Linked DNA regions of Homo sapiens: region 1 is reported to be linked to region 2. Evidence: microRNA targets listed by miRTarBase, many of them from high-throughput screens and not tested one by one. Region 2 holds a microRNA gene; the other region holds the end of a gene's coding sequence.

Region 1 (5,239 bases), not on the chromosome of region 2:
TTATCATATCCTCAGGATAATCTACAACCAGATGTCAACCTGAAAACTTTGTCCATACTTAGTGTAAAAGAATCTTGTATTGCTAACAGTGGTTCTGATTGTACATCACATCTTTCAAAGGATCTTCCAGGAATTCCCTTGCAAAATGAATCCAGAGACTCTAAAATTCTAAAAGGAGACCAGCTGCTTCAAGAAGACTATAAAGTCAATACTTCTGTCCCTTATTCTGTCAGTAACACAGTGGTAAAGACCTGCAATGTTAGACCACCAAATACTGCTTTAGATCATAGTAGAAAAGTTGATATGCAAACCACTCGGAAAATTTTAATGAAGAAGAGTGTTTGCCTTGACAGACATTCCTCTGATGAACAAAGTGCCCCAGTGTTTGGGAAAGCTAAGTACACAACTCAAAGAATGAAGCACAGTTCTCAAAAGCATAATTCATCCCATTTCAAAGAAAGTGGCCATAACAAGTTGAGTAGCCCTAAGATACATATTAAAGAAACTGAACAGTGTGTCAGATCTTATGAAACAGCTGAAAATGAAGAAAGCTGTTTCCCAGATTCAACAAAAAGTTCTCTGAGTTCTCTACAATGTCATAAGAAAGAAAACAACTCTGGTACTTGTTTGGATAGCCCTCTTCCTTTACGCCAGAGATTAAAACTAAGATTCCAAAGCACTTGAAATTTAAAACACTTAGGTATAACTTAACTATTTTAGTACTATCAGCAATAGCAGAGACAGAGGGAAGGTATCTAGTTCATGTGTGGTAAAAATTTTAATGTTCTCTGTGTCATGAAACACTTGCCATTTTAATCAAAGTTGTAATTTTTAAAAAGTCACCTAAAACTCTGGTTTTAAAAGATCCTCTGTATTGAAAACTTCTGATAATGTATGTCATTATGTCCTTACTATTCCTTAATTGTAGTTTTAAAATATTGGTATAGTACTTGACAGAGTAAATACTTCATCTGATTGTTCATTTTTACTTTTTCTTCCACAAGCCTCTAAAGTATTTATATTCCAGCTTGTTCCCAAGAGGATAATTCTTTATACTTCTCTTCATTCTTTTAAGGCCTTGCAAGGTCTTCCGTTATAACTCGCTTTCCTAAAAGCTATTTTCTCCCTCAGTGTGAAGATACCTTTAGTGTGCTCTTCCACTTTGGAAGGCCATGCAAGGTGTTCCATTATAACTCTTTTTCCTAAGAGTTATATTCTCCCTCAGTTTGAAGATACCTTTAGTGTGCTCTTCCACTTTTGGTGTCTTAGTCTCTTTTGAGGGGCAAAAATAGAAAAGGAGAGAAGATGTCAGTATGTTTAGTAAAAATCATGCTCGTAATGGCTGAATAAACTGAGCAAAGTAACTCCTTATGTATCCCCAGAAGTTCACAGGTATATCGGGTGGAAAAAGATTTGGAAAATCAAATGTATAACCAAAAGGATTAGAAACTAGCCCAGGATCACGTAGCTAACTAATAATCCTGTGGGAATCAGTTTTCTTGCCTGCTAATTTTTTTATTTTTCTATTTTTTCCTTCTATAGCACTTTTCCCCCTTTTGTTTTGAATCTATGCAATATTGACTTTAATACCACCAAATATTAAGTCATGCATTAATTTAGGTCGCACTCAAAAATTCTAGAGAGGCATCCAGATTGAAAAGGAAAATGGTGTCTGCAGATGACAAGATTGTATGCATCAAAAATTCTAAGAAATCCACTAGAAAACTATTAAAACTGATAAAGCGAGTTCATCCAGGTCGTAGAATACAAGACCAATGTGCAATGATCATTGCATTTTGTTTTTGTTTGTTTGTTTTTTTTTGAGACAGAGTCTCACTCTTGTCGAGACTGGGGTGTAGTGGCGCCATCTTGGCTCACTGCAACCTCTGCCTCCCAGGTTCACGCAATTCACATGCCTCAGCCACCTGAGTAGCAGGGATTACAGGTGTGTGCCACCATGCCTGGCTAATTTTTAGTATTTTTAGTAGAGATGGGATTTTCCCTTGTTGGTCAGGCTAGTCATGAACTCCTGGCCTCAAGCGATCCACCCATCTTGGCCTCCCAGAGTGCTGGGATTACAGGTGTGAATCACCATACTCAGCCTCAATTGTATTTCTGTACACCTCTAAATAAATGGAAATACATTCCATGTTCATGAATCAGAAGACATAAGATGACCATACTCCCCAAACTGATCTACAGGTTAAATGTAATTCCCATTAATTCCAGCTGGTTTCTTTGCTGATTCTAAAATTCATATGGAAATTTCAGGAACACAGAATATTAGGAAGAATCTTGAAAGAGTTTGAATGACCCACCCTTCCTGATTTTAAGTATACAGAACTACAGTAATGAATGTGTTGTACTGGTATAAAGGTAGACATATAGGTCAATATAGATCAATGGCATAGAATTGAGAATTCAGAAAAAAAGCCTTCACGTTTATGGTCAGTTGATTTTAAACCAGAGTGCCAAGACAATTCAATGGGAAAAGGAAACAGTCTTTGAACCAACTGTCTTCTGGATCTATTGGATATCTATGTAAAAAAGAGTGACATTTGATTCCTACTTCACATGATATTTAAGAAGTAACTTAAGATGGATCAAATACCTAAATGTAAGCTAAAGCTATAAAACTCTTAGAAGAAAACATAGACGTAAATCTTTGTGACTTTGGATTAGGCAAGGATTTCTTAAATATACCCAAAGCATAGGCAACAAAAGAGAATACACAAACTGGACTTCATCAAAACTAAAAACTGTTGTTTGAAATGACACCATCAAGAAAGTGAAAAGACAGCTTACAGAATGGGAGAAAATATTTGCAAATCATAAATGTGATAAGGGACTTGTATCTTGGTGGTATATAAAGAACTCGTAACTCAATTATAAAAAGACAACTTTGAAATGGGCAAAATAGCTCAACAGGCTTTTCTGCAAAGAAGAAATACAAATGACCAAGAAGCACATTTAAAAATTTTCAGTACTATTACTCATCAGGAAAATGCAAATCAAAACCACAAGACACCCAATGTCTACAATCAAAAAGATAATAACTAGTATTGATGAGGATGTGGAGAAATTGAAATTCTCATAACATGCTGGTAGGAATGTAAAATGGGGCAGCCACTTTGGAAAAAGTCTGGTAGTTCTTCAAATGGTTAAATGTAGAGTTACGATATGATCCAGCAATTCCTCTCCCAGGTATATACCCAAGATAAATGAAAACTTATATCCACATAAAAACCTGTGCACAAATGTCCATAGCAGCGTTATTCATAATAGCCTAAAAGTGGAAACAATCCCAGTTCCAGAATGAGGAAGGGGAGAAACTAATGTGTATTAGCTATTGTGTGCTAAGCATTCAACTAGATTATTTACAAACCTTGTATCATCTCAACTCTTTAAGGACTGTATTGCAATGTTTTGAATATTCAGAGAGAAAAAAGTCGTTGCTAAAACATTTTCCAAGGTTCTGCTTATTCTGATTTGTTCAGTCGTGGCTGTGATAGTTCAGGACCATCTAGACCAGGTAAATAAAATATCTAGAGGCATTCTTGAGATTGTATGAGATGAAAATAACAAAATTAGTTGGGAGTGGCCAGTCTGAGTTCATTTTGCTATATAGCTCAGGAGTCCCCAACCCCTGGGCTATGGACAGGTACCAGTCCATCACCTGTCAGGAACCGGCCTGCACAGCAGGTGTTGAGCGGCATGCAAGCGAGAATTACCGCCTGAGCTCTGCCTCCTGTCAGATCAGCGGTGGCATTAGAGTCTCATAGGAGCATGAACCCTATTGTGAACTACGCATGCGAGGATCTAGTTTGTGCACTCCTACTGAGAATCTAATGCCTGATGATATAAGGTGGAACAGCTTCATCCCACAGCCATCTCCCCCTCATCATCCGTGGAAAAACTGTTTTCCACGAAAGTGGTCCTCGGTGCCAGAAAGGTTGGGGACTGCTGATATACCTAATATAGGCATAAGTGTAAAATTATAGTTCCTCCTCCTCAAGGATTTCTCTGTTTTCATTGTCCAGGTTATACCAATTCTTTTTAAAGCATTCCATGTTCTTGTTCCTTGATGTGGTCATGTTATCACTTGTAAATCAAATCTTTTAAGTTGCTGCTTACGTATTTGCTCATCACTTCATTGTCTTGTTGAGGATGCCTTGCTTCCCTTTGAAATACTCTGCCAAAGATCTGCCTCCAGCTGCTAGGATCCTGTAATTGGTTTCTTTCTGATGGCTCCATGCTAAGGCCCTGCTCTGGCCTAACTGCTTTGGGCTTTGTGTAATCAATCTTAAGTCCTTGGCGGTTTTTCTTTTAGATTTTTTTCCATATAAAATCTCTATCTGGCCACACATGGTGGCCGTGCCTGTAATCCCAGCACGCTGGGAGGCTGAGGCGGGTGGATTGCTTGAGGCCAGGAGTTCAAGACCAGCCTGGCCAACATGGTGAAACCCCATCTCTACTAAAAATACAAAAATCAGTGGGGCCTGGTGGCGTGCACCTGTAATCCCAGCTACTCGGGAAGCTGAGGCAGGAGAATCGCTTGAACCTGGGAGGCAGAGGTTGCAGTGAGCTGAGATAGTGCCACTGCACTTCACTCCAGGATGGGCGAAAAAGTGTCTAAAAAAAATTAAAATTTAAATTAAAAAAAAATATACAATCTCCGTCTTCTAGATTTTATAATGAGGACTCTACTTTTTCCTTTTGGGTAGCATGGCTTGAGCCATCTTGTCAGGCATACCTAGCTTCAGATTCTTTTCTGCTAACAGATTTTCTCTGTGACCCTGGAGACATTTTCTAACTTTTCTGAGACTCATTTATTCAAATGTTTATGTGACAGGCATTGTGCTGGGCCCTGGAGATACAGTGATCAATGGCATCCTATAAGGTTTTGATATCTGTGAAGTCACTGCCACCATTGACACATTCTAGGGACTCAGTAAATTGTAGCTGTGTCCGATACCATCATTTGGAAAGAGCACTATCAGATTTTGGATTCAAACTGAATGCAGCCAAGCACTGCCTTTTGGTAAAAATGTGGACACAGTAACACTAGTAGGGGGCAGTGTGAGGGTGGGAGATGTGTTTTCAGAAGAAGGAAACTCTAGATTAGCATCACACAAGGGATCCTAACGTGGCATTTGAGCTACTGGAAAAAAATTGTGCTTGCTTAAATATAATGTGGTAACTAATATTCATCTAATCACCTACCACATTTTTGGAGCAC
Region 2 (5,239 bases):
GAAGTCTTCCCTGCCAAAGGTAGAATGTAATGTGTTCTGTGGTAATAGGATTATTTTGTTTGACCAGGTGACACTGTTTATTTCTTATGAAAAATTTTGATATACTGCTTTAAAATTTAGTAAGATGGATGCATAATTTATGCAGTGAAATTTGAAAGGTTTTTCAAAATGATAAGGCCAAACCTAAGCTAAATGAGGGGGTAGGCATTCTTTATAATAAAGCTGTTATACTCTGCCCAGCTAGGCCAGTTATCCCTAGATGCTACAGATTAATGGGGCAATCTGTGTTATGTAACATTTGTTCTATATTATTCTGCCTCTAATGAGGTGAATCAAAGACGATGTCAGTTTTAATTCTGGATGCCCTTGCTTCAGTATAGTATAATACATAGGTACAGCCTTTTTTAGTAGTTTTCAGATGGCTTCTTTATGTTTTTATATTGAAGAACCACTAACTTCCCATTGGCCTATAAGGTTAGCAATTGATTATTTATAGCAAATGGCTTGAAATGTTAGATCATCAGTATTTGTCAATAAGCCTGTAATAACTTGTTTCCCTAGCCCTTAACTTAGTGTTGAAGAAAAAAATTGTGGTATTCATTGATAGGACTTAGAAAGCACAGAAATTACTTATTATTTAAGATTTGTTCTACCAATTGATATTTAAAGTAAAACATTTTTAGTTACTGAACACCATTCTGTAAATGACAGTATTTTATCCTGAGTATATGGTCTGAAATGACTTAGGGACAACTTTTTAAAGCAAATAACTAATTACAAAATTGGGTCTTCCAATTTATTTCAAATTAGATGCTTTTGTACAAATATTCTTGGTTAGAAATAGTCATATAAATACACTGTTGGACTTGTTCTCATTGATCTCCACACCTCAGTTCCTTCTACATGAGTCATGGGCTTGAGGTTACCCAGAAATGGACTGTGAACCTATAAACCCCAGCATGCATGTGGTATTGCGTCGAGCATGTTCTGTGATTCCCTTCTACTCTTGTTACAGCTTTATTCATTGGATCAATGTGCATTATTTGCTGTGTGTGCTCAGGTAATATTTTTGTTTCTTTTTTTTAGTTTGAATATCAGTTTGGGCTTAGTTACTTTTTAAAATAAGGCTGTTTCAGATAGTCTCTGCCACACTTTGCCTAGCCTGGTTAATTGTGGGTGGACCCATGCTACATGTTTTGGCATTGCCTTTTTCTTATCTGTACCATATTACAAACTTCCTAGTAATTTGACATTCACTGCTGTCTTTGCTTTAGCTTTCCAACAGGTTTGGTGAAACAGTCCATTGCTGTTCAATATCAGCTTGCATCAGAATTACTTGGAGGGCTTATTGATTAAAACACAGATTGCTGGGCCCTGCAAAAAAAGTTTCTGATTCAGTAGGTCTGGGGTGGAACATAAGAATGTGCTTTTCCCCCCACAGTTCCCAAGTACTGCTGATGCTGCTCCTCTAGGCCCATGCTTTCAGAATCACAGAGCTCATCTTACATTCTTTTCCTGCTAGATATTATGCCCAATTAATACATGAAGTAAAACAGAAAAATCCTTAACTTAAAAACATGTATTAATCCAGAAGTTTGATTATAAAAAGGTTTGTTGAAAATGTGAGACCATTTTTTCTCCCAGAGAAAAAGTATATTAATTGTCTAGCTGGGAGGGGCCTATTTGAATGTGTTTTCAGAGAAAAGCAGAAGAAAAAAATACGGTTGTAATAGAAGTAGTTAAAACAGAAAAGCAGTATGGTTGTAGAGTGGGGTGGCGGGGAGGTATATGTGTATTTAATCTTGAGAACCAATGCTTTTGGAAAACAGCCCGAAGGGACAAGAGACTAGGTAGAGACTGGCGAGGTTCCTGAAAGTCCTGGGTTACCTGTGAAATGCCAAAGATTTTTAAAGTTTGCTGGCAGTGGTTATTATATGTAGTTTTACTTCCAAATTTGAAGATTTCCTCTTCTTTGATGCAAGTGTGTTGGTAGGACCACTGATAATAGTTAGTGGAGATATTTGTGGGAATATATTTTTAATCAGAAAGAATGCAAAAAGAGGGGGAGACATTTCTTTGAGACACCTTAATGACACTGGGAACAGTAGAAGGTGGAAAGAGATCAGAGTGTGGGAAAGATGTGCCTGAGATGAAATTATCTGAATTCTGAATGTGGGGGAGAAGATGAGGAGAGGGTTGAGGGGGAGGAGAGATGACTAAGCTCCTCACAGTGTTTCATTAACTGTCTTTTACCTAAAGGAGGAATCTTCTTAATGAAGATTGGTTGATGCATCATACTGGTCATCAAGTAAGTTCTTATAAATGCAAGTTTGATTGTTTTGAAGGGAAGGATATAGGAAGGCTGGATAATCAGCTACATTTAGATATGGAACACTACAGGATGTCGGCATTTATTGTTGTAAATTCCTTTGGTGAAAAACGTTATCACTTGTTTGTGACTAGCCTGGGCAATATAGTGAGACCTTGTCTCTAAAAAAAATTTTATTAATAAGAAAAATTAGCCGGGCATAGTAGCGTGCCTGTAGTGCCCCCCACTGCCCTGGACACGCCCCCACTTCCAAAAAAACAAACACCCAACTCACTTCTGCCTTTTCCTTGGATTCTACACTTTCTCTCAGGATATCTTTCCGATTGAGTCTTGCCTCATTTATGTGAATGCTGTGCCTGTTCTTTTTTTCAACAGAGTCTTACGTAAAGAACCGTACAAACTTAGTAAAGAGTTTAAGTCCTGCTTTAAACCAAGTTTCAGTTCATGTAAACATCCTACACTCAGCTGTAATACATGGATTGGCTGGGAGGTGGATGTTTACTTCAGCTGACTTGGAATGTCAACCAATTAACATTGATAAAAGATTTGGCAAGAATAGTATACAGAGGCTTGAATTTTTAATGTAATTAATGTAATTAAAGGTTTGTTGGAAATGTGAGACCATTTTGTTCTCCCAGAGAAAAAGTGTGTTAATTGTCTAGCTGGCAGGGATCTACTTGAATATGTTTGCAGAGAAAAGCAGAAGAAAGCATGGTTGCAGTAGGAGTAGTTAAAACAGAAAAACAGTATGCTTATAGAGGAAAAATTACTCTAAATTTATTAAAATTCCTTTAAATTTGTTACTCAATTTAAATTTTTATTGTATCTTTTCAATTTTGCTATAGCACTAACATGACATAAGGCTCTGGGTATTGGGACAAAAGAATGCCCTTGTTTGGTAGTTGGGGTCGGGTTTGTAGTATTGCAGTGTGCTTTAACAAGCATGGGCTTTGACATCAGACATTTGTTGCCATCTGGACTCCACAAGTGAATTTGCTACGGGATTTGGAGGAGGGAAAGGCACTGTTTCCATACCTCAGTGGTTTTCTCATCTGTAAAATAAGTATGTGATTGCATGGATTGACTTACATGATGAATATAAAGTTGTTCATTAGTACAGTACCTGTCATATTAAGTACTCAATAAATGCTAGTTATTATTAATGCTGTGTTGTAGGTGTTCAGTAAATAGTTGCCATAATGCTTAAAGCAGACATAACTTGTTTTTATTTTTGCAATAAAGATGATGCCAACTTTTTGGTTTAATGGAAATGCTTTGAATCTTTGATATTGTTGTAATATAGTGGCAAAGAATTTTGAATCCCAGCTTCTGGAGCTCATATCTTGATTCTGCGAGTTACTTCGCTATGTTACTTTGGGGGAAGTTATTAATCTCTCTGTGCCTCAGTTTCCTCAGTCGACTAAATTGAAATTATAATAGCACCTACCTGATAGGATTGTTGAGACTAAATGAGGTAACAATTTAAAAATAAGCTAATACCTGATAATTAGTTCTATATATGTACTGATTGGTCTAAACGTTATTTCCATTTTCATGTCTTTACTTAAAATACTGAAAATTAATTTTTTATAGCTTTGTTTTTCAGTTCCATGAAATCAGCCTGCCTTTTCTTTTTTTGGTGATACATCCACATTCTGTATAGGTGAAAAGCAAAACAAACAAGTATAAAACGAAAATTATGTAAGAAGTACACACATCCTAGCAGCTTGGCAAGTGTCTGTATGCTCTTGCCTGTGCCTAAATCCAGAATTAGAATTCATGCTTGGTGCTCCTGTGGAAGATGTCTAAATGTTATGAGAAATACATGATTAAATAAAAATGTGAAATGAAAGCATGGAGACTTGTTGAAGGTGAGTGCTGTTTTTCTAATTATATATTTTATTTGTTTAATGAATAATTTGTTAATTTTCTTTGTCATTACGAGAGAGCTGTTTTATTCTGTACTTAGGTGCATAGCATACTATGTTTTAGTGAGCTCCACATGTTAATTTGAAACTTGCCAAATTTTTACATTATTTTATAATTTATAGTACTTTGAGAAACATATTGCAATGCATTACAAAGCATATAATGTAAAGGTAGTTTTATGAAGTGTTTTTCTCCCAAATTAAGCATATTTGGGAATTGCCCATCAATTTGTTTTTGAACCTCAGTGCATAAAATATAGAATTTTTCTTTCATATGCTAGATGTGAAAAATACTCAGCATATGCATGTGGTTTAGGCTACAAAATAGCCTGTAGGTTAAATTCCTAATTCTAGTGTTTAATTCATTGCCTTTTTTCTTCTTGTTTAATGGCCATATGTTTATATCTTTATATTACATACATTCCTGATTATGTAATAAGGTCTTTGATCATGTGGGCTATCAGATTTGCCTCACTTTGTCTCTTAGAAGAAGCTATACATGAAACTATGTTGTACTTAAGTGAAAATTTGAGTATTTTTCTTGTTTGAATTAATGCAGTGAAACATTCTACTTACAGTTAGCTGTCTCCCACCCTTACAGGAAGGTACATGCCTTCATTTTTTAAAACACTGTATATTTATTAGAATTGTTACAGAATTTTAGTAAATATATTCTAATCACATATTTTCTGATTAATGTGTGCTTATCAGTTTTAAATGTTATGAAATCTGGATATATGTTAAAATGTCTCAGTTTTCCCCTCTTGTTTACCATATTGCCATTTGGTATTAATAGATAACATAATGTAAAATTGGATGTCTTTGATAATTTTGGGATATGTTCTGAAATTAAACTTGAACTTTTTTCTGTGAATTTTGAAGATTTGGTATCTTATAATTATTTGGTGAGCATTTGGCATGAATTATTTAGCTTCTCCCCTGTTTATGATTTATTTCTCTTGTCATCGATTTCCAATAGGAA

Evidence for each region. Region 2 holds the annotated microRNA hsa-miR-30b-3p (CUGGGAGGUGGAUGUUUACUUC, at 2,813-2,834, shown strand). A microRNA usually pairs through its seed, bases 2 to 8, with sites in the 3' UTR of a target mRNA and lowers its output. Matches are read on the target gene's strand: a 7mer-m8 pairs with bases 2 to 8, a 7mer-A1 pairs with bases 2 to 7 and ends in A, and an 8mer does both.
Region 1: miRTarBase lists GEN1 as a target of hsa-miR-30b-3p. Seed matches in the 3' UTR shown: 7mer-m8 at 1,890-1,896 and 7mer-m8 at 2,058-2,064.

Annotation. Positions count from the first base shown.
Region 1 is chr2:17,781,256-17,786,494 of GRCh38, forward strand. GEN1 (GEN1 Holliday junction 5' flap endonuclease) reads left to right here. Exons shown (of 14, transcript NM_001130009.3): 14 at 1-5,239. The coding sequence ends at 684. The region is part of intron 3 of LOC105373449 (a long non-coding RNA gene); the gene reads right to left. Among named protein-coding and RNA genes, the nearest start is that of GEN1, 30 kb to the left of the region's middle.
Region 2 is chr8:134,798,127-134,803,365 of GRCh38, reverse strand. It overlaps MIR30B (microRNA 30b), which reads left to right and starts at 2,759; the gene lies at 2,759-2,846. It also overlaps a transcript of ZFAT not described here.